Homo sapiens: one gene and its partners. The protein of the gene in region 1 interacts with the protein of each later gene in a biochemical or structural test. Each region holds a gene or a part of one and is shown in the gene's direction. Other genes may lie near its edges.

Region 1 (7,242 bases):
GGCCATGAGTTGGGAAGAATGCTATTTAAGACCTGTGAGAAGGCTGAAAATGAAACCTGGCCCTGGTCTGTTGAGGGTGGGGGTAGGTCTGGATGCTGAGGTTCCCAGGGAGGTGAGTGGGGTGGCTTTCTGGCCCTCAGCACTGAGACCTTGTCCCCACCCACCAGGGGATCCAGTTCTTGGTGGAGAATGAACTGCTGCAGAACACACCCGAGGAGATCGCCCGCTTCCTGTACAAGGGCGAGGGGCTGAACAAGACAGCCATCGGGGACTACCTGGGGGAGAGGTACGGTCACCACTCAGCTCCTGTGGGGCCCCTCCCTCCCACCCCCCAGACCCAGCTCCTGCCCTCACACTGGCAGCTCACAGGTGGAACAGCCCTGCAGCCTCCCCGCAGAGGGGCCCTGGCAGATCAGCCTTCTGACTGGACTGTGACAGAATGGACTGACATGGGCTAGGGGAGCCTGCGGCCAACCGAGAGCATCTGGGGATGTGGGGCCTTCTGGAATTACCTGGCAGTTGTGGGGAAGCATCCATTTATGTCTGAGAAGGGTAGAGAACATCTCTCAAGGATCATGGGAGCTTGAGAACCGTGGGTAGACCATGGCTGTGCATAGGCACTGGGTGGCCATCTGGGAGCTGTGGGGACCGCTGGGCCCTTGTGGGAGCTTAGGAGTTGTGGGGGTCATTTGGAAGCCTAGGGTGCACAGGACTGGACATCAGATGATTGGAGGCCATCTGTGGACGTCTGGGAATCAGGGATTTATAGAGATCTGGGGTGCTTGGGAAGCATCTCTGGATGTCTGGGGGATGTGGGGGCTGTGTCTGGATACCTGGGGAGCATGGGGATCATTTGAGAGAGGTGACAGTAGGTAGCATACATGTTTGCGGCATTTCTCCCAACTGTACAAAGGTCTGGCCTAAGCAGGGTTCCCAAGCCAGATATTCCTCCCAAGAGTGTGTTCTGAGCATCCCCCACCCTGGGGGCAGGCCTGTGTGGGAGTCCAGCAGGAAACTTCACCCTCGGCAGTGGGCAGCTGTGGTGCAGTAGAGGGGGCACGACTTCCCCAGGGCATTGCCCTTTGCCCATTCCTGCCCCATCCTTTCCAAACTGTATGTGTCTTTGTCCCATCCTTCCAGGGAAGAACTGAACCTGGCAGTGCTCCATGCTTTTGTGGATCTGCATGAGTTCACCGACCTCAATCTGGTGCAGGCCCTCAGGTGAGTGAGGGGGAGGGGTTTGGAACGCCAGGAATGTACCTGTCAGGGCCTTCCTAGTTACAAGTGACAAACCTTACTCAAGAAAAAAACAGAAACAAGCAAAACAGAAACAAAAACTAGGGAACTGAGTGTGTCCTGCACCATAAAAGTTCAGGGTTATGGCCTCCTTCAGGTATGGCTATATCCAGGAGCTCAAATGGTGGTCAGAAAGTCGACTTTCTTTGCCTCTTGTATTTGCCACTGTGTCAGCATTGCTCTCTGCAGACCCGCTTACCTGATAACAAGCCTCAACCAACCCCCAGACCTGTCTAGCGAACTTAGCAGAAAGAGGCTATTTCTGTAGGGATTCACAACACTCCCGTGGCCAATGCCCATTGGTGAGACTGGATCATGTGACCATACCTGAAACAACTGCTGAGGCCGGAAGGTCGGGATTCCTCGTGGACCAGTTCCTAACACAGGGACTGAGAGTGGGGACAGGCTCCCACCAGCCCTGGCATCCATTCCTGGCCCCTCCCCAACCCAGGCAGTTTCTATGGAGCTTTCGCCTACCCGGAGAGGCCCAGAAAATTGACCGGATGATGGAGGCCTTCGCCCAGCGATACTGCCTGTGCAACCCTGGGGTTTTCCAGTCCACAGGTGCGGGCCCCAAATCCTGGGTCCTGGGAAAGAGGAGACTGGGGCCCAGACTCCTAGGTCTGAGGGAGGGAGGGGGCTGGGAGCTGGGAATCCTGGGTCCTGGGGAATGGGGGCACTGGGGACTGACATGCCTGGGTCGTCACCACCTGCCCTGTCCGGTGCAGACACGTGCTATGTGCTGTCCTTCGCCGTCATCATGCTCAACACCAGTCTCCACAATCCCAATGTCCGGGACAAGCCGGGCCTGGAGCGCTTTGTGGCCATGAACCGGGGCATCAACGAGGGCGGGGACCTGCCTGAGGAGCTGCTCAGGGTCAGTCCCCCTTCCCTGCCCCTCAGCCCTGCCCCTCTTCCTGCCACAGACACCCCCGCCCCACCTGTGGTCTCCTAGTGCCCAAGCTGTCTGCCCTCACCCCCAAGATGGTGCGATCATGCCAACTCGTGTGTGATCTTTTTCTCTCTCTCTGGGTGCTTCTCTTCTTGACTGTCTCTCTCAGGCTTTGGCCCTGACAATTTTGGCCTGTCTGTCTTCTCTGTCTCTGGCTGTTGGGCTTTCCGGCCCTCGATTGGCCTCATTCCCCATCTGTCTGTTTCTCTGAGGACGTAGCCGGCTCCTCCACCTATCACCAGGGCATCTCTTCTTTCCTCCGCCACCTCAGCCTCCCTCCACTTCTCTGCCTTTCACTTCCCTCTCCTCCCCACTACCCCTCTCTCTTCCCCACTATGAGTCATCCCATCCCTGGTCTCGCTGCCCCCCACCCTGAGTAACCCTGGGGGGCCCCAGGGGGCTCGAATGGCTAATGCAGCCTTTACTCCTCAGAACCTGTACGACAGCATCCGAAATGAGCCCTTCAAGATTCCTGAGGATGACGGGAATGACCTGACCCACACCTTCTTCAACCCGGACCGGGAGGGCTGGCTCCTGAAGCTGGGTACGTGCCCTCCCGACCCCGCTGGTCCCTCCGCAGGAGGACATTTGTGGGCCTGGGCCCTGGACTCAGCTTCCGCACACACCTGCTGCCTGAACTGAGGCAAATGATTCGACCTCTCTGAACCTCAGTTTTCCACACCCAAAAAATGGGGCTGAAAATAAAATCAGGCCTGTGTGCTGGGCCTGGCCTGTAGTAAGTACTTCCCAACCCCTTCTCTTGACCCACAAATGTTGATGGAGCCCTTCTGTGCCAGGCCCTGAGCTGGGCTGAGGAGGCAGTGAGAGGCAGCTGACATTGTCCTTTCGTGGGAGAAGAGTTCACTCAGGCTTCTTTCCACTGCGTTAACCCAGCCCGAGGGAGCCAAACCCCTGGAATCTATTCCCCTTGGCAAGAACTCCCAGGGTTCCAGGCAGGACTGACCCCGCACTCCGAGGCATCAGGCCCAGAGCACTTGGCTGATCCAGGTGCCATCCTTCCCGAAACACCACCCACAGGCAGAAAAGAGCCAAACAGGCCAGGAAACCTGTCCCAGATTCTGGCTTCCAGCTGTGGAGGGAATAGCCAGGGCTGGTGCAGATGAGTCGGGAAACCCAGCAGAGATGGAGGGGGGAGTCTTCGTCATAACACGTGGCACTGGCACATTCAAGGTCGGTTAGCATGGATCAGACAGGATCGTAGCATGATGAGGGGTTAGCACAAGGACTAGAGTGGTTCTCAGCCCTGGCTGTACATGAGATTTGCCTGGGCAACTCGAAAACTCCGGTGGCTGGGCCATAGACTCCTGAAGTCAGGCTCTCAGGAGCAGAAGGGCCATCAGTCATCGTTTAAGCTCCTCGGGTGCTCCCAATGCATAGTCAAGGTTGAGAGCTACTGGCCTGGAGCCGTGCCTGGTAACAGTAGGTGCCACCTGCGTGTTAGATGTGGTTTATAATGGAGACACGGTGCACAGCTGCTCCAGAGAGACACATCTGGGCAGTTACAGTCCAGCACAGCAGTGGAGGCTTCCCGCGGCAGCAGGAGAGCCCACAGGAAGCTTTCAGCTCAGTGAAGGGAGTCAAGGTCAGGCTTCTTGGAAGGAGGTTGGACAGGGCAGCTTTGGCCTCTGAGTCTTGGGGGCCTCCCCATGTGGAACTGTGCTCTTAAACCAGGGCATCACCACCTCAACAGATGCCAGGGTTTCCTGGTAAATGTAAAATACACAAGTCAGGCAGGGCACAGGGGCCCACCCCTGTAATTTCAGCACTTTGGGAGGACAAGGCAGGAGGATTGTTAGAGGTCAGGAGTTTGAGACCAACCTGGGCAATATAATGATACCCCCCATCTCTACAAAAAATAAAAAAATTAGCCAGGCATGGTGATGTGGGAGGATTGTTTGAGCTCAAGTGGTCGAGGCTTCAGTGAGTCATGGTTGCGCCACTGCAGTCCAGCCTGGGCAACAGAGCGAGACCCCGTCTCTATAAAATAAAACATGCAAATCACTGTCCAGCCAACACCCCAGTCCAGATCCCTGCATTCGATCCAAGGGAGGCAGACTGCTGGGGGAAATTGAGAGTCCTCGAGGTGCCCCTGGCAGTGAGCGGGCCAGAAAGAGAAGCAGGAAGGCGCCAGCATCACGAGGAACTGCTTCCCTCAAAACTGCTGTCAGGCCAGGCACGGTGGCTCAGGCCTGTAATCCCAGCACTTTGGGAGGCTGAGGCAGGCAGATCACTTGAGGTCAGGAGTTTGAGACCAGCCTGGCCAACATGGTGAAACCCCGTCTCTACTAAAAATACAAAAATTAGCCGGGCGTGGTGGCAGGCACCTGTAATCCCAGCTACTTGGGAGGCTGAGGCACAAGAATTGCTTGAACCCAGGAGGTGGAGCTTGCAGTGAGCCGAGATCACACCATTGCAAATCCAGCCTGGACGACAGAGCGAGACAGTCTCAAAAAAACAAAACAAAACAAAAACTGCTCCTGTGAGCAGTAACTTTCCCATTTCCCAGAGGCTCACGCCTCAGTTTGGTTCTGAGCCCCACCTAAGGCTGCCCAGCCCCAGGGACATCTCTGACCAAAGGGCCTCTGTTCCCTTTGTGCCAGTTAGAGGGACCCCTTCCTTAAAAGATGGAAATACAGGAGTGGAGATTGGTGATGGTGGTTGCTACTCCATGCCTAATAAAAGCCATTCTTACTGTCATTGTTTAACCCTGGGCCCACAAGGAAGCCAGCAGCAGGTCATTTTGCCACAGGAAGGTGTAGGCCCGAGTGAGTCTCCAGGCTGGAGTCCAGAGAGTCCAAGAGAGTGCCCTGAGGTCACACAGCCAGTTTGTGCAGGAGCTGAGATGGGCCCTCACACCCACCTCAGACCAAGGGCTGGGGGTTTTGCCTTCTGTCCTGTGGGGGCCTCCTCCAGGGCAGAGGCACTTTTACCATGTCAAGGGAGGATGCTCCTGGCCTAGGACAGACCCTAGGGGGTAGGCTGGGGCCCTGTACCGAAGCAAGGGGTTTTCAAGGCTGCCACCCGGGGCTCATGGCCCTTGGCCTCTCTGGGAGGGAGGAGCCCCGGCCATCCCCACCCTCGTGGATGTAACTGGTTTTCTTCCCTCTCTCTCCCTCCCCTCCTCTCTGCGTCTTTCCCTCTCTCCTGTGTTTGCCTCTCTGTCCTGCCCCTGCGCACCCCTCCCTGTGCCCACCCTGTTTCTGTCGCCTGCGGCTCTTGGGGGTGCTCCATTCTCCCGCCTTCCCTTCTCCTGCACCTGGTCCTGCCTGCTTTCTCGCTGTCTGCCCCAGGAGGTAGGTACACGACCTGTCTTTGTCTCCCATCACTAGACGAGGGGAGGGGGCTGCCCTGGCGCCCTGGCGCCCTGGCCTCCTGCCCACAGGAGGAGGGGGCTGGGGGCTCAGGCTCCTGGGCTGGGACTGACAGACTCAGAAAATGTGGAGCCCCAAGCTGGGGGTGGACGATTCCTGGAGCCCCAACATGCCTGGCCCTGCTTGTCTGTCTCCCCCAACGCAGCGGCTTTGTCTAGGCCCCAGGAGCCCCACCTCTACCGCTCTTGCTCTGCTTCTCACGCCCCTCCCATCTCCCAGAGGCCCTGTCCCCCTGTTGAGCCCAGGCCCCCTCCCACCCCTTCCCTTTCAGGGGGCCGGGTGAAGACGTGGAAGCGGCGCTGGTTTATCCTCACAGACAACTGCCTCTACTACTTTGAGTACACCACGGTGAGCGTGACCCGACCCGGGCTCTGGGGTCCTGGGCGGAGTGGCTGGGAGCCTGGACTCCTGGGGCTGAGGGAGGTGGGGTGGGGTGAGGACTTGGAAGTCTGAGTTCTGTCCACCTTGCTTCTTCAGGACAAGGAGCCCCGAGGAATCATCCCCCTGGAGAATCTGAGCATCCGAGAGGTGGACGACCCCCGGAAACCGGTAAGACCCTCTCTGTACACCTTCCTGCCAGGGCGGGGCCTCCTCTGCCCAGGGCTGGTTCTTACCTGCGCCCTTCCTCTCTCGTCCCCAGAACTGCTTTGAACTTTACATCCCCAACAACAAGGGGCAGCTCATCAAAGCCTGCAAAACTGAGGCGGACGGCCGAGTGGTGGAGGGAAACCACATGGTGTACCGGATCTCGGCCCCCACGCAGGAGGAGAAGGACGAGTGGATCAAGTCCATCCAGTGAGCCTGGACTCCTGGGCCTGATGGAGGAGGGGCTGGGGCCTGGACTCCTGGGTCTGATGGAGGAGGGGCAGGGGCCTGGATGCCTGGGTCTGATGGAGGAGGGGCTGGGGCCTGGACGCCTGGGTCTGACGGAGGAGGGGCTGGGGCCTGGACTCCTGGGTCTGACGGAGGAGGGGCAGGGGCCTGGACACCTGGGTCTGACGGAGGAGGGGCCGGGGGCCTGGACCCCTGGGTCTGACGGAGGAGGGGCCGGGGGCCTGGACTCCTGGGTCTGACGGAGGAGGGGCCGGGGGCCTGGACTCCTGGGTGTGAGGGAGGAGGGGCCGGGGGCCTGGACTCCTGGGTCTGAGGGAGGAGGGGCCGGGGGCCTGGACTGCTGGGTCTGAGGGAGGAGGGGCCGGGGGCCTGGACTCCTGGGTCTGAGGGAGGAGGGGCCGGGGGTCTGAGACTCCTCCTGGGTATGAGGGAGGAGGGGCTGGAGGCCTGGACTCCTTGGCCCTCATCCTGGGACCCCTCCCCTTCTGCAGGGCGGCTGTGAGTGTGGACCCCTTCTATGAGATGCTGGCAGCGAGAAAGAAGCGGATTTCAGTCAAGAAGAAGCAGGAGCAGCCCTGACCCCCTGCCCCCAACTCCATTATTTATTACGGAGCTGCCCCGCCTGGGTGGCCGGACCCCTGGGCCTTGGGGCTGTGGATCCTGGTTCCCTGTTTGGAAAATTCACCACCTCTAGCTCCTCACTGTTCTTTGTAATTAACACGCTGTTGGTAATCTTATTAATTATTTAACCACTTGGCCTGCTGACCC
Region 2 (7,110 bases), on another chromosome or scaffold:
TTTTTGAGACGGAGTCTCGCTCTGTCGCCCAGGCTGGAGTGCAGTGGCGCAATTCGGCTCACTGCAACCTCCGCCTTCCCGGTTCCAGCTATTCTCCTGCTTCAGCCTCCGGAGTAGCTGGGACTACAGGCGTGCGCCACCACGCCCTGCTAATTTTTTTGTATTTTTAGTAGAGACGAGGTTTCAACATGTTGGCCAGGCTGGTCTTGAACTCCTAACTTCAGGTGATCCATCCGCCTCAGCCACCCAAAGTGTTGGCATTATAGGCGCGAGCCACTGGGCCCGGCCGGAAGTGGCTTTTTACTTTTTCAAGTCACTCTACTAGTGAGGAATGGAAGGATGGGACTCACGCACTGAATCTCAGTCTGGTGTTCCAGCATGTCCTAAGGGCAACCTGTCTCTCCAGTGTCATCCCCATTTTTGGTCCTTGTTTTTCTCCTTTAAGTTCCTCCTCTCCAATAAAGGCCTGAGAGTTCTATACTACTCAGACACTGCCTAGAAATGCAGGGTTTGTAGGAATTCCTGGCCAACCCAGTATCAACAGAACCCCCAAGGGCCCAAGGGCCCAAGGACCCCAGGCTGGGAAACTCCCACGCTAAGGGTGGAGGTTTGGTTCTCCTACTCAGGGAGCCCTCTGAGTACATTTATTCCATCATGCATTCATTAATTCACACAAGATTTTCTGACTGCCTATGTGTGCCAGGCATGGTGCTGGGCATGGTAGAGCTACAGATAAGAACCAGCTGCTGCCCTTGATCACGTAGTCTGGTGGAGGAGACAGCTCTGAGGAAGAATGATGCTTATCTGACTCAGTGTCACTTAAACCTTGGCTCAGCGTCGCCGCTTTGAAACTTTCTCCTGCACACTCTTCCACCAATCTAAAGTAGTTCTCCAGCCACATGTGGTGGCACGCACCTGTAATCCCAGCTACTCAGGAGTCTGAGGCGGAGGATCTCTTGAACCGAAGAGTTCAAGGCTGCAGTAAGCTATGGTCTCGCCACTGCACTCCAGCCTGGGTGACAGAGTGAGACCTTGTCTTTAAAAAAAAAAAAAAAAGGCCGGGCGCGGTGGCTCATGCCTGTAATCCCGGCACTTTGGGAGGCCGAGGCGGGCGGATCACGAGGTCAGGAGATTGAGACCATCTTGGCTAACACGGTGAAACTCCGTCTCTACTAAAAATACTAAAAATTAGCTGGGCGCGGTGGCGGGCACCTGTAGTTCCAGCTACTCGGGAGGCTGAGGCAGGAGAATGGCATGAACCCGGGAAGTGGAGCTTGCAGTGAGCCGAGATAGCGCCACTGCAGTCCGCCCTGGGCAAAACAGCGAGACTCCGTCTCAAAAAAAAAAAAAATTATTTTTATTTTAATTTTGAAAAAATAGGGAATGCTTCATGAATTTGCAAGTCATCCTTGCACGGGGCCATGCTAATTTCTGTATCGTTCAAAAAAAAATGATTGCTTAATGTACAAATGTTCAGATGTTCTCTGCAGGGATTAGTGTAAGCCCATAGCTTAGTGCTACCTGGACGAGCTGGGCCCCTTTTTTTACCCCTCCCCAGCCCCACCTTCTCCTTCCCATTTGTTCATTAACACCTTCTCTGGCAAACATGAAAGACGGAAGGGTGGGGTAGGATTGTCAGTTTCATTTCCTTTATCAGATAAGTGACAATTTCTGTCTTGGATGTGAGTCCCAAGACAGATTATAGGAGCCATGTTAAAGAAGCTTCAAAGATTGTGGAAGAAACAAGACAACTTGTGTATTTTCAGTTTTTGTGTGTTTTCAGTCTCATAGCCATTGTAACATTTGTTCAAAGCCAGGTTTGGCCAGTTTCTAGCTGGATGACCTTCAACAAATTACCTAACCTTTCTGTGCTTCAGTTTCTTCTTTTTAGACTAACCATACTTACTTCATGGGCTTGACTTGTGTATTAAAAAAGGAAAAGTAAGCAAAGTTCCTAGACCAGAGCCTGGCATGCAGTGGCCACTCAACAGTGCAGTGGTTCTCAACCGCTGGGCCTGCTCCGTCTTCCCCTCTCCTAACTTCACCATGCTCAGGTCTGTCTCCTGTACGTTAGCTGCTGCTGCAACCTGTCACCCTCCAACTTGGGGTGTAACAAACTAATTTCCTAAGGTCTTAATCTTAGACTAATTTCCTAAGGTCTTTAGGGATTTGGGGAGGCTCCCTGCATTGCTGGGGAAACCAGGTGGCTGGTTTTGTAGTGGAGGGGAGAAAAAGGAGGTGGCAAAGCACACTGGTGACAAACAGATGGGAAGCTTATTTATCAGCACTTGATTGAGGAGGGTGGGCAGGAAAAGGCTGGGCCGTGCTGTCTGGCAATGACTTCCCTTCTCCTTTTTCCAATCCCTCTCACACATAGCCCTTAAAAAGATTAATACTGAATTACACAATAAATAAAATAATCCACGCCTGTAAATCCCAACACTTTGGGAGGTCGAGGCGGGCGGATCACCTGAGATCGGGAGTTCGAGACCAGCCTGACCAACATGGAGAAATCCTGTCTGTACTAAAAGTACAAAATTAGCCGGGCGTGGTGGCACATGCCTATAATCCCAGCTACTCGGGAGGCTGAGGCAGGAGAATTGCTTGAACCTGGGAGGTGGAGGTTGCAGTGAGCCGAGATCGCACCATTGGACACCAGCCTGGGTAACAAGAGCAAAACTCTGTCTCAAAAATAAATAAATAAATAAATAAATAAATAAATAGATAAAGTTACAATTTACAATTTCATTCTTCTTTGATTGGCCCTCTTCTCTCCCCCACCTAATTGCTGTTGTCCTTTTGGTCACACTGCCCTTTGTGACATCTCCTTCCTTTCAGGGCTGCCCAGACTGTAGCAGGCTGCAGTGGCTGGGGAGACCCTACTCATTCCTGTGCCCCTCCTAACCAGTCCTAGATAGGGCTAAAGAACGTCTATAAACCTTTTCAGAAGCTTCCAGTTGACACATTCTCTCTCTTCTCTGAAATCCTACAAGTGCTATCTCATGATTTACAAAGACCCAATACATGTGCTGTCTCATTCTGTCATTGCCAGTCTTAAGTCTTAAGCCCTTTGAGGCCTGATTCTACAGCCGAGACATCCTCTATTTCTCCACCATCTCTCTGTCTCATTCAGAGCACACAGTATGAATGAGGTCAATAAACACAGTGTTTTTTGTTTTGTTTTGTTTTGTTTTTGTTTTTTTTGAGACAGAGTCTTGCTCTGTTGCCCAGGCTGGAGTGCAATGGTGTGATCTCAGCTCACTGCAACCTCCGCCTCCCGGGTTCAAGTGATTCTCCTGCCTCAGCCTCCCGAATAGTTGCAATTACAGGCGCCCGCCACCACACCCAGCTAATTTTTGTATTTTTAGTAGAGACGGGGTTTCACCATGTTGGCCAGGCTGGTCTCGAACTCCTGACCTCAGGTGCTTCGCCCACATCGGCCTCCCAAAATGCTGGTATTACAGGCGTGAGCTACCGTGCCCAGCCCAATAAACACACTGGTTTTTTTTTTTTGTTTGCTTTGTTTTGAGACAGAGTCTTGCTCTGTCGCCCAGGCTGGAATGCAGTGGCGCTATCTCAGCTTACTGCAACCTCCGCCTCCCGGGTTCAAGCGATTCTCCTGCCTCAGCCTCCCGAGTAGCTGGGATTACAGGCACCCGCCACCACGCCCGGCTAATTTTTGTCTTTTTATTACTGATGGGGTTTCACCCTGTTGTCCAGGCTGGTGGAACTCCTGAGCTTAAGTGATGTGCCTGCCTCAGCCTCCCAAAGTGCTGAGTTTACAGGTATGATCCACTGCGCCTAAACATACTGTTGAGTGTAACCTCAAATAGGTCATTTAACCCTTCAGGGCTTTGTGTATCTGTAAAAGGCAGACAACAGTCCCTAACAGGCTATTGCAGATAATGGGCTTAGCACTATGAAGCAGCTGTTTTATGGGGCTCCAGGTTCACCTTAGGTTTGACAATTGAATTATGAAAGATAAAGGAGAAAGACTTGTCAGCCTCTCCGAGTAGATCCTTTGGCCGAAGGAGTGTCCATGTGGGGTGGTATCTCGGCCTGGTGGAGGGGGATGCGATGGTAGTGAGAATATTAGGGTATTCATATCTTTCCTCCCGAGTCAAACGTTGCCAGGCACGTTCCTTTCGCCCCTCCCACCCTCCATTCTGCATTAATTCCAAGTTTAATTCCAAATATTAGAGTGTGGTAGAAAAGGTCAAATAGAGCAGCCACGGATTAAGCAAACGCCCCTCCGCGTATGGTGGGGGCTGCAGCGCCCGTAGCTCCACGCTCCGCCCCGCCGCCGCTGATTGTCCCGCGCCTTGTGACGTCACACGCGGGTTTTTAAGGCCGAACCCTAGGCAGGCTCTGCAGAGGCAGCGGTTGGAGGCGCGGTGGGTGTCTGCGGGGGTCTCGCGGGGCGGCTGCGGTGTTTCACCGGGAAAGGCTCGAGGAGAGCGCGGCTCACGAGAGGTAAACGGACCCTGCAGACCGTGCTGAGGCGGTCCCGGTGCCGGGCCGCTGGAGCTGGGGTCGGCCATCGGAGGAGGGCGGGCGGGCAGGAGAGTGTCGCGGGGCGGTGGGGCGAGGGTCGCGGAGTAAGGAAGGGCACCGTGTCAACGGCTTGGGGCTGCGGAGGGCGGGTGGGAGCCGGACTCAATCTCCGGTCTCAGCGTCTGCACCCTAGCTCTTAGTTTGGGGGCACTGTCGACTTCCCCCGTCCCTCGGGGATCTTGCCTGGGGGATGGCGCCATAAGCTCTGAGAAGAGGCTCTAGAAGCCCACTGTCCATGGATCGAGCCCTCACCCCCCACTTGAGTGGCCCAGGACCTGGGAGTCTCTCTAGGTCCCATCGCCCCCCTCACGACCCCCCCAGGGAGTGGGGGAACACCTCTGTTATGCCTTAAAAAAAAAAAAAAAAAGGAAAGGAATTTTAAAAATGAAGGATGGGAGGGTGATTTAGGAAGGGATCAAGAAGTTGCAAATCTTGTGTGTATTATTAAACGTCTCCTTTTTCTCCCATGACCTTTTCTTGGTTCAGATAACCCAGCTGTGCTCCCTGGAACCTTCAATTTCAAGGCCTCCCTGCCTCTACTAGGCGCCTTAGCTCACTATGGGGAACCACTTGACTGAGATGGCGCCCACTGCCTCCTCCTTCTTGCCCCACTTCCAAGCCCTGCATGTCGTGGTCATTGGGCTGGACTCTGCTGGAAAGACCTCCCTCCTTTACCGCCTCAAGTTCAAGGAGTTTGTCCAGAGTGTCCCCACCAAAGGCTTCAACACCGAGAAGATCCGGGTGCCCCTCGGGGGATCGCGTGGCATCACCTTCCAAGTGTGGGACGTCGGGGGGCAGGAGAAGCTGCGACCACTGTGGCGCTCTTATACCCGCCGGACAGACGGTCTAGTGTTTGTGGTGGACGCTGCGGAGGCTGAGCGGCTGGAGGAAGCCAAGGTGGAGTTGCACCGAATCAGCCGGGCCTCGGACAACCAGGGCGTGCCAGTGCTGGTGCTGGCCAACAAGCAGGACCAGCCCGGGGCACTGAGCGCTGCTGAGGTGGAGAAGAGGCTGGCAGTCCGAGAGCTAGCAGCCGCCACTCTCACTCATGTGCAAGGCTGCAGCGCTGTGGACGGTCTGGGCCTGCAGCAGGGCCTTGAGCGCCTCTATGAGATGATCCTCAAGAGGAAGAAGGCAGCTCGGGGTGGCAAGAAGAGACGGTGACCCAAGCCCCCCCTCCCTTTCCTCCCACCTAGTAGGGGTCTGCACACTTGGACAGCAGGGTGGGACCAGCCTGTGACCTCTCAGTCAGACTGGGGTGCAGGACCTGTCCACCTCAATGAAGGAGAGAGGAGCATGGGGTGTCCCGTTTTGGTGCCACACTGGGGTGGGGATGGGAGATGGGATGTCTTTGCATATCTCTCTCATCCTCTCTGGAGAAGTGGGCGCTGCAGGACTGTGGAGACGTAAATGTAAACTGTGACTCTACCTCGACCCTGTTTCTTATTTTTCTTCTCTGGCTAAAAATTTTTAATTGGATGTGTTTGGGGGCGGGGGGATGGAAGTGACTTGGAGAATGTGTTTGGGATGAAATAACTATCTCCCCTTCCTCTGTCCCCCAACTGGGGAGTCTCCCCAGGCTGCTTTTCTAGGAATACCAGTCACATAGTTTTTATTTTTGTGTCTGTGAAAGTGCCAAGAACCCCTCCCCACATTTGTAGATCCATGACCCTTTTTATAAGCTGTGTGTGTCCTCTGTATTATTGTTATTAACTATTTTTTAGCATTTGCCTGTAAGTTATTAAAGACTGATAACTGTAGCTCTTACCTTGGTCTGGGGCATTTTCCTCTCCTTATCTTGCCCCAGAGACAATTCAAGATTTCTATATGGGGTTGTGGCGCAGGGGGAGGGAGATTTATCTTGAAGCTGAATTTGCAAAGCAAGCACTTATAAAAATTAGATTGTGTGTTACGGGATGGCTTGTGAAAATTATAGGGGGGAGTGGAAAACCCCTCAAGCTATTGCCTGATCTCTGTAGTTTTTTGGGTGGGGTCACTTCCTTTTTCTCTGATTTAACACCCCTCCCCTCATCCTCTGGGTCTTACTTGTCCCTTATATCAACTGCTCCTTGCAGATTTAACTTCAAATTTTGCTAGTCTGAGCTACTCCTAGGTTCTTGACCTTGGTGACACCTAAGTCTATATAGGTAAGTCCTCAAAGAGCCATTCTGTTCCCATCCTCCCCACTTCCCCAGTCTTAGGTTGGTTTGATTTTTTTCCTCCTTGTAAGATGTGGTGAGAGTGGAAAGTAATTCCTCCCTGGCCTTAAGTCACCTCTGTGTACTCAATCCTGCTGACTGGCTCACTGGCATGATGGCAGCGGCTGGTGCTAGGGAGGCCTGGGCTGGATTGAGCCAGCCTGGCCCTGGTGACTAAGCCATGAGTTTTCCAGCTCTGGGAATGGTAGCTCTTCTCACGAGAGGGGCAGAAGTAGTAGCTGTTTGTGCTTGGTGGCAGAGAGGACTGCTGGACATACACCCTCCAGACTCCAAGATAGAAGGGGGAAGACATAAGCCCCCAGTATTTGTGGTGATTGTAAGAATAAAATGCTAATAT
Region 3 (7,242 bases), on another chromosome or scaffold:
GAATCCAGGACGGTTGATTTCAACAAGGAAGATATTAGGGAGGGATTTCATTTGAGGAATTCCTGATTCGCTGCTTTGATGAGTACACTGAATGTTCTGGTTCCTTCTATCATTTAAACAAACCTATCTAGAGGAGATTATAAGATGTATCCATTCACAGTTTAAAGATCTACTAATATTTTTAACTAGTTTATGGAGGAATAAGTATTTTGAAATGAAAATCAATGTAAAATTGTTTTCAAAGTAAATTTTAGTTCAAGGCTTGATACCATTTTAATGGAAGAGGATTTGTTTGACAGGGATAAAAGTGGGTACCCTTGCATTTGCTCATGTAATTATTTACTTTTGTGTATTAATAATATGGAGACATTTAAAAAGACAATTAGTGGGTACCTGACTAGATGAAAGTATGGCAGTAAAATTTGGGCTATGTTGATTTATATTCGGCAACTATGCCAGTCTTCCAAATTTATTCCGTATGCTTATATATTATATATTTTTATTTTAACTTTAGAAACGTGAACCCTGAAATCTACCACTATAAGAATATTACATTAAATTTTGAATTATTTTCTTGTTGTCTTTTAACTTATTCATTCTTTGAATTCATTTATGTTAGTGTTTGACACTCAAAACTTACTCTTTGTATTCTATGTAGATATACAAGAGCATACTTCATTTTAACTTGGTTAATGTTTTTATATATTTTGTAGGTATAAAGCACATATTTTCTTTAATTGATTAATTTTCATGAATATTCACTAAATATTTCTGTTGGTGGTACATAGATAACCTCATTTAATATAATTTGTAAGTCTGTGTAATACAAGTGGCCTTGAGTGCCTGCTTCATGTTACATATAGTTATCCTGAAATTTTTTTCAGTTCCTAGAAGAAACATTTTTTTCCTGTTAACCTGTTCTTATTTTACACGTTTTTGAAGTCTTTTACTCTTTAGATCTTAATTATCAAATAGGAAGACTTAGTAAACCCCTTTAATTGATTGAATTATCGCTATTGAAACAGGCAAAGTTTAGGCCAGTCTTTTTTTTTTTTTTTTTGAGATGGAGTTTTGCTCTTGTTGCCCAAGCTGGAGTGCAATGGCGCGACCTCACTTCACTGCAACCTCCGCCTCCCAGGTACAAGCGATTCTCCTGTCTCAGCCTCCCAGGTAGCTTGGATTACAGGCATGCACCACCACGCCCGGCTATTTTTTTTGCATTTAGTAGAGCTGGGGTTTCAACATGTTAGTCAGGCTGGTCGCGACAGGCCAGTCTTAAATGGAAGACCTTAAATGGTCTTGGTCTTCTGAAATGAATTTTATATATGAGCACAGATTTTCTTCCTGTTGTACACTGCAAACATATGAGAGTAGAGGTTGTGTCTGTTTTGCTCACTATTAAATCCCAGCTTCAAGCACAGTATCTAACTCGTAGAATGCTCTCAATAAATATTGGCTGAGTAAATGAATTTATTTATTACCCTCCTGCTGGAAATTAGACCAGACAATAATGAATAAATGTATAGAAACATAGGAATATATAATGTTTTTATCTGTGGCAGATAAAATCAGGATCTTAAAAAAATTGTGTGTAACTCTTTGAGCCAACTGATTATAAATGCATTCCAGGATAGGAAGTGTTAATGTAAGATGTTGCATCACACATTGAACCAGTGTATTACAGTTCTGTACTGGATGTATTTGAGAATGGTAACAGTCATGCTTAAAGTATGAAAGTTTAAAGAAAAGAAAAACCATTCTATATTTTTATTACTTTTTATTGTGTAGAGGCTAGTTTAACCCTCTCATCTTTTTACCATACATTTTTCTCCATGGTACAGGGCTCAGTGAATTTTTAATACTCTGTAGAGCACAGGTGATGACTAAATGGGTGTTTGTGATTGACTTATACAATAACGTGAGGAAAACCACCATAATTAAATACAGAATTTCAGGAATTGCAGTTAGAACATTTTTAATATGAAGGATATGCATTTGTACTGAAAGCTATACAGTTTTAGACCAAGAAGGGGCTTGGAAGGCTGGAAGTGCTGTAGCCAATTTAAGCTGTATGGGAAGTTAATTTCTACACATCTGGAAAAGAGCACGCTTCCCACTGCTCCTCAGTAGGGTTCACTGGAGTGGGTATGTTGATTGCCTGAATTAACCTAGAGGTCAGTGCCATCTAGGATGGTGACTCAGAACCATTGAGTGAAAGCCTTGGTCTAAGTAACCTCAATAACAGCAGCTCCCTAAAAATAGCAAAATATGGTGTTTATGAGACTGCTTTAAGGACCAACAGGTTTTATTTTTTGCTACTCTTTTAGCTTCCAAGTGTTGAATATGTTTCTGAATGTCAGGATTTATTTGGATACAGTTCCCTTTTTTGTTGTTGTTGAAACAAAGTACTTATAGTTTATATCAGAAGAACAAAGTGGGAACATCCCTCATAAAAATCAAAACTGTGGCTCTGACTGTATAACAAAGCCTTCGGAATAAGTTTTTTGCATTGAACTACGTAGATTCATCGTCTGGATCTCCATATAATGTCCCATCCTTACCCCTATATGCTATTTCTTCATATGGCAAATCTGACACAAATTAAAACCCTGCTGAACAGTGAAAATATTGCAGGTTTATCTATTCACATATTCTAAAGTAAGTTTAGAAAGGAGAACCAGAAGACTAATTTAGTAGCCATTTTAATATAAATAAATTTGATAGAATCTTTTTCATTAAAAAAGAAAACCATCTCAGCTCTACTTTAGGAGAAATGGCTTATGTTCAGTTTTCAGAAGTGCCTATTAAAAACAGTTACGATTTTTATTACCCATGAATTTTTTAGGACCTGAAACAGCCTTTGCAGTTGTGAGGCTGCGTGCTATGCTAAACTTAGCAGAAAAAAGGAACAGATTTTTCTTTATGATCCAGGCACACTTACACTTGAAAAGAAATTAACAAGATTCTCTAAGGAAGGTTTTGATTCCAGCATTCATATTAATTTTTCTTTAAGGGGAGTTATTCTACTAATATTCTGTTAATATTAGTAGAAATGTTGATTGGATGTTGTAGAGGGAAAATAGGGAGCTCAAAGGGTACATCTTGGAAGAGACAGAAGCCATTTTATAAGGAGGTTAGGATTGCTTTCTCCCTCAGAAGGTGGAGGGAATCTGTTTCCTCTGTATTGGGTTGAGGAAAATACAAGTTTGTGAAGCAACAAATTTTAAAGTCAAATTTCCTGGTTGGAACGGGAGGCAGTCACATTTTTCAAAGGAAAACTTTTGTAATGCCTTTTAAGTTATGTTAAGATCTCTGCAGACTTAATCCTAGTGAAGTGTGAAATAGCAATAGAAGGTAAAATGTGCGATTGTTGGTAATTAAATCTGTGGCAATAACTGACTACAGTAAACCGTGAACGTTTACTCTTGTTCTGCCGAATGGAGTAACATTAAAGAAAGAGCTGCTCTCAGACCCAAACACTATTTTGTGTGAATAGCTGTTACTGATAAAATTATAGGAAGTTGTTCAACAATCACCTTTGATTTGTTACATTACCGATATGTAAAAAATAAAATTATAGGAAGTTGTTCAACAATCACCTTTGATTTGTTACATTACCGATATGTAAAAATCTGTCTGATTTCTCATCTAACATGTAGTAAAAGGACCTAGGCATACTGATGAAATGAGTTAACACATCCTAGGTGGTCATGAATTTGGGCTTTAAAAACAAAAATAAATGTCCATGTTGCAGTGCCGAGAATCCCAAATTGGATTAACTATACAGCTCTGTTGTTAACCTTTATACATAGCCATAATCAGTGCAGAATATTTTGTTAAAAGCCTTTATGGTTAATTTTAAAGAACAAAATTAGTATTACTTAAAAATCAAATTATGAAGATATCTCAAATCCATTTTTTCAACATATACTTGTCAGTTATTAAAAAATATTTCCTCTAATTTTTTTTTTTAACCAGGCATAACTTAAGAAGGAACAGTTTCATGCAGAATGCTAGTCAAATGAACAAATATGAGCACCTACTATGTGCCAAATAATGTGCTGTGTGAGATGCTCCTTATGTCTTATTTGCCGACAGGAAAGACTAAGCACTTTGCATAGTTCTTGTATTGTAGCTGATGTCCTCGTACTGACATGCCCTTCTGACTTTATCCTTCCTGGCTTTGGCTTTTCTATTGGGTTTTCATACACAGAAAGAGACAAAATAATCTGAAGGCCATTGTAGGAGCTTCCTGGGGATCACAGGACTGGGGAATGCGGATGATTTTACCTTGTGTTTCTAAGTGGATTGGAAGCTCCGTGAAGGCAAAGATCCTTGCTCTTGTATCTTTATCGCAATTCCTGATGATTCTATTATCAGTAACTAGGGATGTGTGTGGAAAGCTGGATTCCAAAAAGAATGGAGGGTAATCGGAAGAAGTGAATTTAAATTCCCTGCTTTCTTCTAATAGGCATCATCCATATGTCCTCCATTTTCCACTCCTCTTTGCTGTTTTGTGGGCCACCGGGCGCACAGTGAAAGGAATTCCGTTTTAAAGATGGAACAGTTTTTGCCTTCTTGCCTTCCTCTCATTTGTTCTCTTGGGACAATGTTTCGGTTGAACATTCTCATATTGTTTCCAGTTAAAAGCCAATAGCAATTGATCCAGCTGTTCCAATGGAAAGCTGTTACACACACAAGTTCTTTGAAATCTGACAATCTGTGCACCTTTATTACAGGATTAATCATGGATTGTGAACAATATGTCTGCTTTAGAAATAAAATAGTTGTTTTCAAGTAATGGATTGTGGTGCAGTTGGGAACGAAAATGTTACTAATGCCATTATAGTGTGTGTGTGTGTATATACACACATATACAATATGTGTGTGTTTATACACACATAATTGACCCACAAATTAAAGAAAAAGAGATCTAGCCAGACTTTTTGGCTCTGTTACCGGAAGCGAACAGTGATGTTTAGACACATAGTTACATATATTTCTAGGAGATAGCCTCATTTTTTTTCCCTTTGGAAAACTAAAATCATGAATTAATTGTGCTTTCCAAGAATTTTTTTTTTAATCAGCATCACTTGCTAAAAAATAGAAATAGAATTTTTTTGTTTCTTTTTTATGTTGAAAAATTTTTTTCATTTTTATTGTTTCTTTCCTACATTTTCTTTTACTGTAGGGGCAACAGGGTGATTGGTGAGATCTTCTACCACCATGTATTTACTGGTAACTGCAGGCATCTAGTTGCTTCTAAAGAGGAATGCTTCTGTGATTTACCCAGTCCCTTTTCAGTCTACCAGTGATTTCTGTAGCCCCCCTACCCATCCCTTTCATGTGAATACCACCCACCCATTTAATTCCTCATCACATCTTTCTTAAACAGATGCTAAAGAGGTTCCTCAGATTCTCTGACTTGCACATTTGCATACGATTTAGAGAACTTCCAAGTTGGTGCTTCTGTGAGACATCATGTGGCTGTGAGCTGGTGAGAGGGGAAGTTGGGTGCTTTAATACATTCAAAGGAAGGAATTTGTGAGTGTGTGTTTAGGCAATGATTAACTTTCTTTTGCAATACTTACTCTGGTCCGTAAAGCAAAAATAAATTGTTACTGAACACAATGTAAAATCCTCCTTCCTTTTCCAGAGGGCAGGGACTTGAGATTGGTTCATGATTACCAGCAGAGAGTTAGTGAGCCAGTGCTGGATAATCTATCACGGACCAGTGGGTTTCAGAATCGGATGCAGTGCGTATGCTGGAAGGGGAGAAGGTGCTGTAGGCATGTGTAGGCATCTTCCTCACTTAATGATTTGAAAACCCTCTTCTCAGTGACTTGCAAGCCTTAACATCTTTTTCTGATTGTATTTCCATACAGATAGTTAAGGGTGATGGCAATAGCAGTGGCCTTTACTTTTGTTATACCCAATCAGCCTGAGTACATTTTTGTGGTGGGTTTGTTTTGGTATTTTCTTGCCATGTGAATTGATATTTAGGACCTGCGCTTTGCAGAGCTCCTTCATTATAGTATGCGTTCTTTCTGCAGATGGCAAATGCAATTTTCCTCTTGTCCTAGAGAGATGACCCATTTCCTGTGACTTGTTCTAATAATACAAGATGACTTTAATTTTTGTTCAGTTTGCCTTTAAAAGATTGCCAGGTTTAACTCTCTTGTCTCTGTAACTCTTGTGATATATTTTTGAGCATTGGTAAGACATGTAATAATTTAAAAACAATGGCAGACTAATTTTGTGAAAGTTTTTTATTTTTTATTTTTGGCTAAATAAGCACCTTTTATGGCTGTGCATTTTGGATTCGTTACATATATCTTTTCTAAAATCTGTGACTGAAAGTGGGGTGAAGTATTCCTGCCCTGCTTACTGAATCTTTTTTTCCCACATAACTAACCTCAGGGTATTTTGATCATTTGCTTTTTCTATAAAAACCTGTAGAATGAGGAGATTGCAGCAGATGATCTCTAAGGACCATTTGAACTTTGAATTTTTTTCTCCTTCCCCTTTGCAGCTTTGGCGTCTCGGCCACTTTCTGCCCAAACTCACCCCTGGATGAAGGGTCTAAGCTTGCTGCTGTCTCCAGCAGTGATGGGCTCTACTAGGAGGCATTGCCAGGTCTGGTGGGCTCCTTCGGGTTGGCCTGGCTCTTCTCTTTGACCTCTGTAATAACTCTGAGTGCCCTGCAGTGGGGAGCACTTTGAGGGGGGCCTGTGAATGAAGCCTTAGCAAGTCTGTCCAGAGCTCCCCTGGTGCCGCCTGGCATGCTGCTGATAGTTTGCAATGTCTTCACAAGAAATGGTATCAGAAACCTCCTGTCATATCAGCATGGGTCTCTTGCTTCCTGCAGGAAGGGCGATATCCTGGGAGGCACAGAGGTGGAGCCCGAGAGACGCAGTGTTCCAGCGCTGCTCGGCTCAGGACTGGGTCTTTTCTTCCGTATCCTCAAGCAGCTTCCTTTGACTTACTACTTCTTTTTGTTTGTTTTTTCTTCATTGGGCTTTAAGCGTTGCTTCTCTTTAGTGTATGTGTGACTGAAGCCAAACACAACATTGCTTTCCCTTTGCCTGCAAATAATCTTGTTGCCCAAGCCCATCTCTGCCATTTTCAGTGACAGCTGGCTGGCCAATGAGCCTGAGCACTGGGAATGCCCAGCAGGGCACATCTAGGGGGCTGCTTTATATTTGGAGCTAGCAGGTCTCTTTTCTAGGGCTTTCCAGGAAA
Region 4 (8,114 bases), on another chromosome or scaffold:
GAGAATGGTGAACCTTCCCTCTTAGTATAGTGCACAACCTGGACAACCACATGGAGTTGCCTTACTTTTGTTTGTTTGTTTGTTGTGTGTGTGTGTTTTTAATTGAGACAGAGTCTCGCTCTGTCACCCAGGCTGGAGTGCAATGGAGTGATCTTGGCTCACTGCAACCTCTGCTGCATGGGTTCAAGTGATTCTCATGCCTCAGCCTCCTGAGTAACTGGGACTACAGGCTCCCAGCACCATGCTCGCTAATTTTTTTTGTATTTTAAGTAGAGATGGGGTTTTGCCATGTTGCCCAGGCCATTCTTGAACTCCCGACCTCAGGCGATCCGTCCGTATTGGCCTCCGAAAGTGCTGGGATTACAAGCGTGAGCCACCGCGCCTGGCCGTTCGTTGTGGGTTTTTTGTTGTTGTTGTTGTTTTGAGACAAGGTCTTGCCCTGTCTCCCAGGCCGGAGTGTAGTCTCGGGATATTGGCTCACTGCAACCTCCGCCTCCCTGCTCAAGTGATCTTCCCACCTCAGCCTCCCAAGTAGCTGGGACTACAGGTGCGTGCCACCACTCCTGGCCAATTTCTTTATTTTTTGGTAGAGACAGGTTTTCACAATGTTGCCCAGGCTGATCTCCAACTCCTGACCTCAGTCGATCCTCTGGCCTGGGCCTCCCAAAGTGCTGGGATTATAGGCGTGAGCCTCTGCGTCTGGCTGCCCTGCTTCTGGATGAGCCACTGACTGACGAATTAGCCTCGTCTCTCTTCCATGTTCTTTCCCTTTACTCCTTCCTCATCCCAAACCCTAACCTCCCTGCAGCTCCTGGAACCTGCTGTGCTCCCTTGCTGCTGTGCTTTTGTACACCTGTCACTGCTGTTTCAAGTCCCTCTCTTATTTTCTGGTATTGCTTCCTCTGGCCAAGTTTTGCCGAGGCTCAGCCTGGGTCAGCCTTCCCTCTTCTTGCCCGGGGTCCTAGCCCTTACTTCAGGTACTGTGCTGCTTCATCACTCGTCTAGATTGGAGAATCCTCCAGTGAATGGGGCTTGAGCTTTGATCCATCGTGCTGGGCACTAGTAGGTGCTCAATAAATGTTTATTGAACAACTGAAAACCGGGAAGTGAATGAATGGATGAACGGGGACACAGCAGCTCGCAGCGGGCAGCAGGAGGCGCTCGCCGGGAGGGTGCTCCTTCCCTTCAGCCAGCCGGAGTTCAGCCAGCGGGCCCGGCGGGAGGAGTGGGAGTGGGCCGGGGCCAGGGCCGGGGAGAGGGGCCATCCCCGCGCGACCCGCAGCGCCGCACAGCGAGGGGGAGGGCGCCTGCGGGGAGGACAGGGTCGGGGGAGCGCCCTTCCGCAGGCTCCTTTCATTCTTCCACTTAGGGGTCTCCAGGAATGAAAACTGGCCCCAGCCAGGCCAGAGCGCGCGAATGAAAGGCGGCACTGGGACCAAGAGAGAAGCTTCGTCCCGCCTGGGCTGCGGAAACTGGCGGCGCCAGGGGTGTCCCACCGCGCGGGCGTCCGAAAGCGGGGCAAAGGGGACAGCCTCGCCCCTCGAGCGGCTGCTCCCGCAGCTCGCTCACCCCTGCGGGTACGTCGTCACTCCCGCGTGCGGCCCCGTCCCGACTCTTGGATCGGACTCTTCAGTCCCTTCTTGCGTCTTCCCCTCTTTCCTCTGGGCCTTGGTATGCCCCAGGGGACAGATGTCTTGGGATCTTTAACATTTGGGATGCTGCAAATGCCGAAGTTAAATGAAATACCTCCGGGGAGGGCAGGCCGCAGGGAGGCTCGGGGGGAGGGAAGATGGCCTGGACAAACAGGTCCTGAAGCTGCGAGGCTGGAGTGGAGGGCGCAGGGGCAGGCGGGCGGCGCCAGAGCTCCATGGGACAGGTAAGCGGGAAAACTTCGGGGCACCCAGTGCGGGTGAACTGGGGCGGGGGATCGGGCCCCTGAACCCACGGTCTTCAGCCTTAGCGGAGGGTGCCCTACAGGGAATGGGGTAATTTTTTCAAAGGGGCAGGAATTCTGAGTTCCTACCAAAAATGCACATTTCCAGTCCCTCAACCTTTCTCCTTCGACCTTCTTCGTGCCTGTGGATCTTCCTGGCCAGGTTCCGGGAAGCCAGAAAGCAGCCAAACAAAAGGAGCAAAGTCTCGGGCCAGCCTGGATGTGGAGGGCGCAGTGGGGGAGGGGAGCAGGGTGGACAGGACAAAGGGGCTTTTTAGAGAAAGCCTAGAGGTCTCATTTCAGGGCGCATTCCAAGCTGGCTTGGAGTTCCCCTGTCCCAGCCCACTTCACCTTTGCTTAGTGGAGGCGAACACCTTTCCTAGTGAGCAGGGAGCAGACGCGAGTAAGAAAACAGTGAAGGAACCATCTCCTACCCCTCTTGCCTGGAGGGTCCCGGGCTATTTCACTTCTTCCTTTTTTCACTGTTGTCTCTAGCGCTGGCCATTGATTCCTTAATTCTTGAAGTAAGATTTTAGCAGTGCCTGAGACTACTTTGCTGGGGGCTGTTGGGGATGTGAAGATGGTAGGACGAGGCCCTTGCTTTAAAGAACTTCCAATCTGGTGTTATCAGAAGACCCTAAAAGAAGGAACTTTTTTTTAAAAAAAATGGAGAGTGGATGGCTACAGCGCTGGGGAAGAGTTTTCTGACTCGGGACTTTTCCTCAGGAAACGAAAACACTGAAGAGGTCCAGTTTCTCTTCCCTGGGGAAGGGCTCTTGTCTGCAAAGATCAGATTCCAAGTACTATAATGTTTTGCAAGGAAATACCACTTCCTCACCAACTGGTGGTCTGGACGGCACTCTGGGGTTTGGGGCTGGGGCATCAGTCCCCTGACTCCCCGGCCTGACTGGAGTGGGGAGCTGTTTCAGATTCCCAGCTGGCCTCTGGAGTGCCCACCTCCCCCATTGGTATTTTGAATTGAATGACATGGCCATCAGAGAGCTCCAAGGATGGCTCCCCGGGGTTCTTGGCAGGAGGTTTGGTTAGCCAGCTCCCTTCCAAACCTCAGATTCTGCAAGGTTGGGAAATATTGAGCGTGAATTTGGGGGAGCAAGGTGTTTTTGAGAATTCCAAAGGATCAATGCAAACAGTGAGATTGAGCATCTGTACTAACCTCCCCTGAAGTCAGAGATGGAGGATTACCTGAGGGCAGGGATTCTTAACTGGGTTCATTGGCATTAGGCATCTGTAGATGGAATTCAGAGGATGTGTAAACTAGGTGAGGCAAAAAAAGATATCATTGTTTTTCACCAACCTTTAACAGATTTTAACATCACCTTTAGTTATGAAGACAACAAATCACAGTAGCATTGGCAGTACCTGTGACTTTGCCATTAATAGAATTCATAGTTTCATATCACACTGCAGTCACAGCAGTCTTGAAATGTTGTTTACACTCAGCCCTTGTGTGAAATTACCCACTGCTAGACCCTGCTTAATGTTAATAAAGAAGCATATATATTGCTATGTTTTTATATTTTTAGAACTTTATTTCATATAATTGACTTTTTTAGTGATCTTCTTAATTTTATTTTATGCTCAAGAAATGTGAACTGTGAGCCAATTCACAGCTGGTAGAAACTTCCACCAACCCCCACCTGGAGCTGGAGATGGGCAAGGTGGAGGAAGGGCCGCTTATGCCCAGAGTCAACCCCTCTCTGTTTGACTTTGTAAGAAAGTGCCAAGCCTCTATGGGGAGGGACGGTGTGTCACGGAGGACTGGGGAAGGGCAGGGCTGCAGGCTCTTTGGGAGACCCAGAGAACAAGCTCCCAATGGGGCGGGGGGAGGAAGAACTGTCCCCTCTTAGGGCCCCTCAGCCTCAGCCTGGGCAGAAAATGAGGTGGTCAGCCTGGAGCACTCTGGGGCTAGCATTGTTTGGAAAAAGGGTGTGTACAGGAATGTGAAGGTGTGCTGGGTGTGTGTACCGGAGCAGTGGGGGATGCTGGGGGACTCCAGCCCCATGAGTTCCGCTCCACAGGAGATGCCTGGTGAAAGCAAACTTCCTCTGTCATCCCTGCACTTGGGGGTAGGGAGTGGGGACAGGACTTTTTAGGGGCTGGGGGAGGGGAAGCAATCCAGACATGTATTGAGGCACTGGAATCTGGGTCGGGGGAATGGTGGGAAGATCAGAGAGTGGGGGGAAAGGGAGGTGGTAAGATGAAGACTTGAGGGGTGCAGCCTGCTGGGGACAGGCCAGGCAACAGTCAGCGTTAGCTCTGCTTCCGCCTTGAAATAGGCTAGATTCCAGTTTCCCATTTGCTTGGGGGTCGGTGGGATGGGAGATCTTGAGGCTTATTTTTTATAGGAAATAAGTTCCATTTTGGTCTCTGGCTCCTTGCATTTGGGGAGTGGACTTAGGGTCTGGGGTCACAGTGGACCTCCTGTGGAGTAGGAAACAGGACTTGGGCTCAGGTCAGTGCCTGTCAGTGCCCCATGAACATGCGTTGCTGGGGGATGGATGTAAATAATCAACAGAGAAGTGATGGCCTCGATACCCTTGGGGGACAATGTCTGGGATAAAAAGAACAGCCTGATCCTCTCTCTCTAGGATTCTAGAACTTCTGCATATTGGAATTCCAGCTGCCTTGCCTGAGGTTTTAAAATCCTCACTCGGGAGAGATAAAACCCAGGCCTTGGTCTTCATTTCCATATGTGGGGAAGAGCAGTGACCCATCCCTGTCAGTTTGTAAATGTCCTGCTTGTTTTTTCCATGGACAGTGGACATTTCACCTTGCTTCCGGGGTGCTTAACAGGCCTCAATTTCTGGAAAGAGAAACTGAGGTCAAAGGAAGGCAGGGAGAGCCAGGGTCAGGACAGGAGGGCACGCAGGTACCTCACAGCTCAGAATGTTGTACTAGGGTCTCTTGAGGCCATGAAGACATGACTCTTGTTGTTGTCTTCTTTGGGGATTCCTCCATGGGAGCCCCTTTTTCCCTGCTACCCTCCTGCCCCCCGGAAGTGCAGAGGCCCAGGAGCTGCCTGCTGGCACCAGTTGCACGGGATTAGTTCAGGGAAGGACTTGCTCACCTGCTCCTCCCCTCTGACTCAAGTCATAACAAGTAACCTGGTTCCCCTGGCCCGGCAGCCTGGGAGGGACGGCAAGGTAGGCAGGTGAGCCGAGACGGACGGACGGCCAGCAGCTCCGTCAGCTGGAGAGAGAGCACAGGCCTGTGGCTTGGGAGACCCTGAGGCGACATGTGAGGGCCCTGAGCCCCCTGACTGGAAGCAGGGGCTGTTTTTCAACTCCTGGACTAAAGCCCAGAAGCAGGTGAGGGCGGGGGAGGTGGAATGGGTCTTTGGGGCTGAGAGCAGGCTGGCCTGGGAGTGGAGGAGCCCAAGCAGTGGCCATCACCCCCCTCCGACCCCCACCCCCGCCAGCCTATGTCTGGTGTGTAGGGATGACAGAGGGGTGCTGGTGGGCTTGGACGGGAGCCTGTTCTTGTGGTTGCCTAGGCCTTAGTTTCCACCAGAGGGAGAGCAAGCAGAGATGAGCTGGGACAGGCAGGCCTGAGACCTGGCTTTGGGGGACACACTTGGGATAGAGGAGGATCCCCCATGGCCCGGCCTGAGGGAAGGTGCTCTGGAGTTTCCCTCCCTCCCTCTGTGCCCCTTCTGGTCTCCTCTGCCTTTTTCTGGGGACATTGTTCAGCCGGGTGGGCTGCTTTTTAGGGCCCAGTACTGGAGCTTGAAGAGGCCCAGGAGGGATCCCTGTGTTAGGGAGGGGGTGGGGATGTTACCTGAACTGCCTTTATCTAAAAGCAATGCCTTAGACACTTAAGACTCATAGCCTCCTGGGTGGGGGTGGTGCCCTCGCTCTCACCTGTTGACTCTGGGGCAGGTTCCCTACAGCTGTGGAGGGCGGCCTCGGCAGAGGCAGATGTGAGGGTCCGCTATGTGGCTGTACGGGTTTCCTTCTTGGCCTGACATTGACCAAGAGGTCGAGATTCAGACCGGGGACCTGGAAAGGCTTTAGACACTGTGCAGTCTTTATTGTGCACAGGAGGAAAGGAAGCCCCGGGAGGCCTGGTGACTTCCCCAAGGTAGTACAGACCGCAGCAGAACCAAGCCTTGAGCCCACAGCCAGGGGCTCTGGGCATCTGACGCTGTTCTCTTTGCTCTACTTGGGGCAGCAAGTCATCCCAGAGAGGACCCAGCATCAGGCTGGGACCACTGGGAAGATCAGTGCCTCCCCTTTGATGCTGGCAGTCAGAGACTGGGCTGAGCTGGGAGAAGGGGAAGCTGGCGGAGACGGGAGGCGTGCTAAGGTACCCCTCTGTCCCTGTAAGTCCCCACTCCTCTGCAACAGTCTCAGAGCCCCTGAGAAGCAGGGGCTGAGTTGGCCCAACTTTCCAAGGCAACTACTTAGTGGTTAATAATTAATTAGCAAGCGTGACTAATTAATGGCTTCCCCTCCCACATTACTTCCTCCTCTGTGCAAAGCAGACACACTCAGCATGCTAGCTGAGACCACCTTGCTTCCTACCTCTGGCTGCACCCTGCTCTTGGCTTCTGGGGAGGGTGGGAGGATGGCTAGGGTGGGTGGGAAGGGGTGGGGGTGAGCTGCCTGCTCCTCTGTCCTGTTCTTATCTCTACGAGGGATAGAGTTTGGGACAGATGGACAGTGCAGAGCTAATAGTCATCCTAAGTATCCTGCGGGGTGGGGTTCCAGAATATATGGCCAATCTTTCAGAACTTTGGCATGTTTGCAAAGGCCTCCCATAAAGTTAAAAAAAATAATTCTCCCATGCATTCTCTAGACTTCCTTGAATAATTGAAATTCCAAAGTGCAAGGTACATGTTGCTTTCAGGGCTTTGTGTTTGATTGTTGCTGCCTGTGGTTGCTGTGTTGTTTATGTAGGTCTATAAAAGTTCTTGATCGTCCTGCTCTTATCATCTTGATGGGTGGAGAGGTATCACCAGGGACCTGGCTGACAGCAGTCCCCTCTCCCTGTTGGCCTTGCTTTGTTACCAGCTTTCCCAAGGCCGACTTTTCTGTCGTGTTGGCTGCCTGAGGAGGGGTGGAGCTCACCTCCCCCACCCTGCGGCCCCGCGCTCTGAGGAGGCAGGATAGGCTCCAGACAGAAACTCGGAAGGACTTTTGGACTCTTGCTCAATGGGCTGACTCAGTGAGGAGGTGGCTGAGCTCTCTTTCCAGACCCAACCACCTGCATGGGCTCCGCCCACCCCTCCCACCCCTGCTGCAGCCAGCAGCTGCCAGGCCCTGGCCAGCTGGGACCCCAACCAGGGGTGTGGGTTGGTGAGGAGGGAGAGGGGGTGGGCACAGGTGTTATCTGGGTGACTGGTCCCTAGCTGAGCCGACACAATGGGATGGCACCTGTACCACCCAAGTGTTCTCCACCCCGAAGCAGGCAGAGGAGCAGGTGATCTCCTTTCTGTCCTTGCACAGCTTCTGCTCTAGTCACTGCTTGCCCCTCTCCTGTCAACTCTTGGCAACCCTGATAGACACAGCCCTGGGTCTCCCCTGGCTGTGGGGTGTAGGGGATCTAGGCTGATTCCCCTTCAGTGGTCTCCCAGGAGTAATTGATGGCTTGAAAGTTGTTTGAGGGCTTTGGGACAGCTCTCTGGCATACAGTGGCTGCACATATCTGCAGATGATGTGAAGTTCAGAGTCCAGGGCGCCAATTCAGAGAGTGGGCGTCCTGGACTTCGGAGGCCCCAGACCAGGGCCTTGGCCATGTGCCTGCCCACTTCTTGAAGTGTCCTCAGCCACTGGGGCGTAGGACATGCCTCACACCTCCTGGGTTCTTGGGTTGAGGATAGCTGTGTCCCATAAAGATGTCTTCCCCTTCCTCCTTTCTTTTTTTTTTGGAGACGGGGTCTCTCTGTTGTCCAGGCTGGAGTGCAATGGCGTGAACATGGCTCACTGCAGCCTTGACTTCTCCAGGCTCAGGCAATCCTCCTGCCTCAGCCTCCTGAGTAGCTGGGACTACAGGTGCACACCACTATGCCCAGCTAAGTTTCATTTTGGAGAGATGGGGTCTAAGTTGTCCAGGCTGGTCTTGAACTCCTGGGCTCAAGCTATCCTTCTGCCTTGGTCTCCAGAAATGCTGGGATTACAGGCGTGAGCCACCATGCTGGGCTTCCTTCCTCCTTTCTTTG

Evidence for each region.
Region 2: the proteins of CYTH2 (region 1) and ARL4D form a complex in vitro, tested with the Homo sapiens proteins (one study listed by BioGRID).
Region 3: the proteins of CYTH2 (region 1) and GNAQ form a complex in vitro, tested with the Homo sapiens proteins (one study listed by BioGRID).
Region 4: the proteins of CYTH2 (region 1) and INAVA form a complex in vitro, tested with the Homo sapiens proteins (one study listed by BioGRID).

Annotation. Positions count from the first base shown.
Region 1 is NC_000019.10:48,472,158-48,479,399, forward strand, and holds part of CYTH2 (cytohesin-2), read left to right. Parts: intron 1-167; coding exon 168-286; intron 287-1,140; coding exon 1,141-1,221; intron 1,222-1,747; coding exon 1,748-1,860; intron 1,861-2,024; coding exon 2,025-2,173; intron 2,174-2,680; coding exon 2,681-2,792; intron 2,793-5,559; coding exon of another isoform or gene 5,560-5,562; intron 5,563-5,911; coding exon 5,912-5,988; intron 5,989-6,117; coding exon 6,118-6,189; intron 6,190-6,280; coding exon 6,281-6,435; intron 6,436-6,965; coding exon 6,966-7,053; 3' UTR 7,054-7,242. UniProt on the Homo sapiens protein: Acts as a guanine-nucleotide exchange factor (GEF). Promotes guanine-nucleotide exchange on ARF1, ARF3 and ARF6. Activates ARF factors through replacement of GDP with GTP.
Region 2 is NC_000017.11:43,394,621-43,401,730, forward strand, and holds ARL4D (ADP-ribosylation factor-like protein 4D), read left to right. Parts: upstream 1-4,372; 5' UTR 4,373-4,473; intron 4,474-4,475; exon of another isoform or gene 4,476-4,532; intron 4,533-5,040; 5' UTR 5,041-5,112; coding exon 5,113-5,718; 3' UTR 5,719-6,517; downstream 6,518-7,110. UniProt on the Homo sapiens protein: Small GTP-binding protein which cycles between an inactive GDP-bound and an active GTP-bound form, and the rate of cycling is regulated by guanine nucleotide exchange factors (GEF) and GTPase-activating proteins (GAP).
Region 3 is NC_000009.12:78,021,570-78,028,811, reverse strand, and holds part of GNAQ (guanine nucleotide-binding protein G(q) subunit alpha), read left to right. Parts: intron 1-7,242.
Region 4 is NC_000001.11:200,889,826-200,897,939, forward strand, and holds the start of INAVA (innate immunity activator protein), read left to right. Parts: upstream 1-5,074; 5' UTR 5,075-5,262; intron 5,263-8,114. UniProt on the Homo sapiens protein: Expressed in peripheral macrophages and intestinal myeloid-derived cells, is required for optimal PRR (pattern recognition receptor)-induced signaling, cytokine secretion, and bacterial clearance.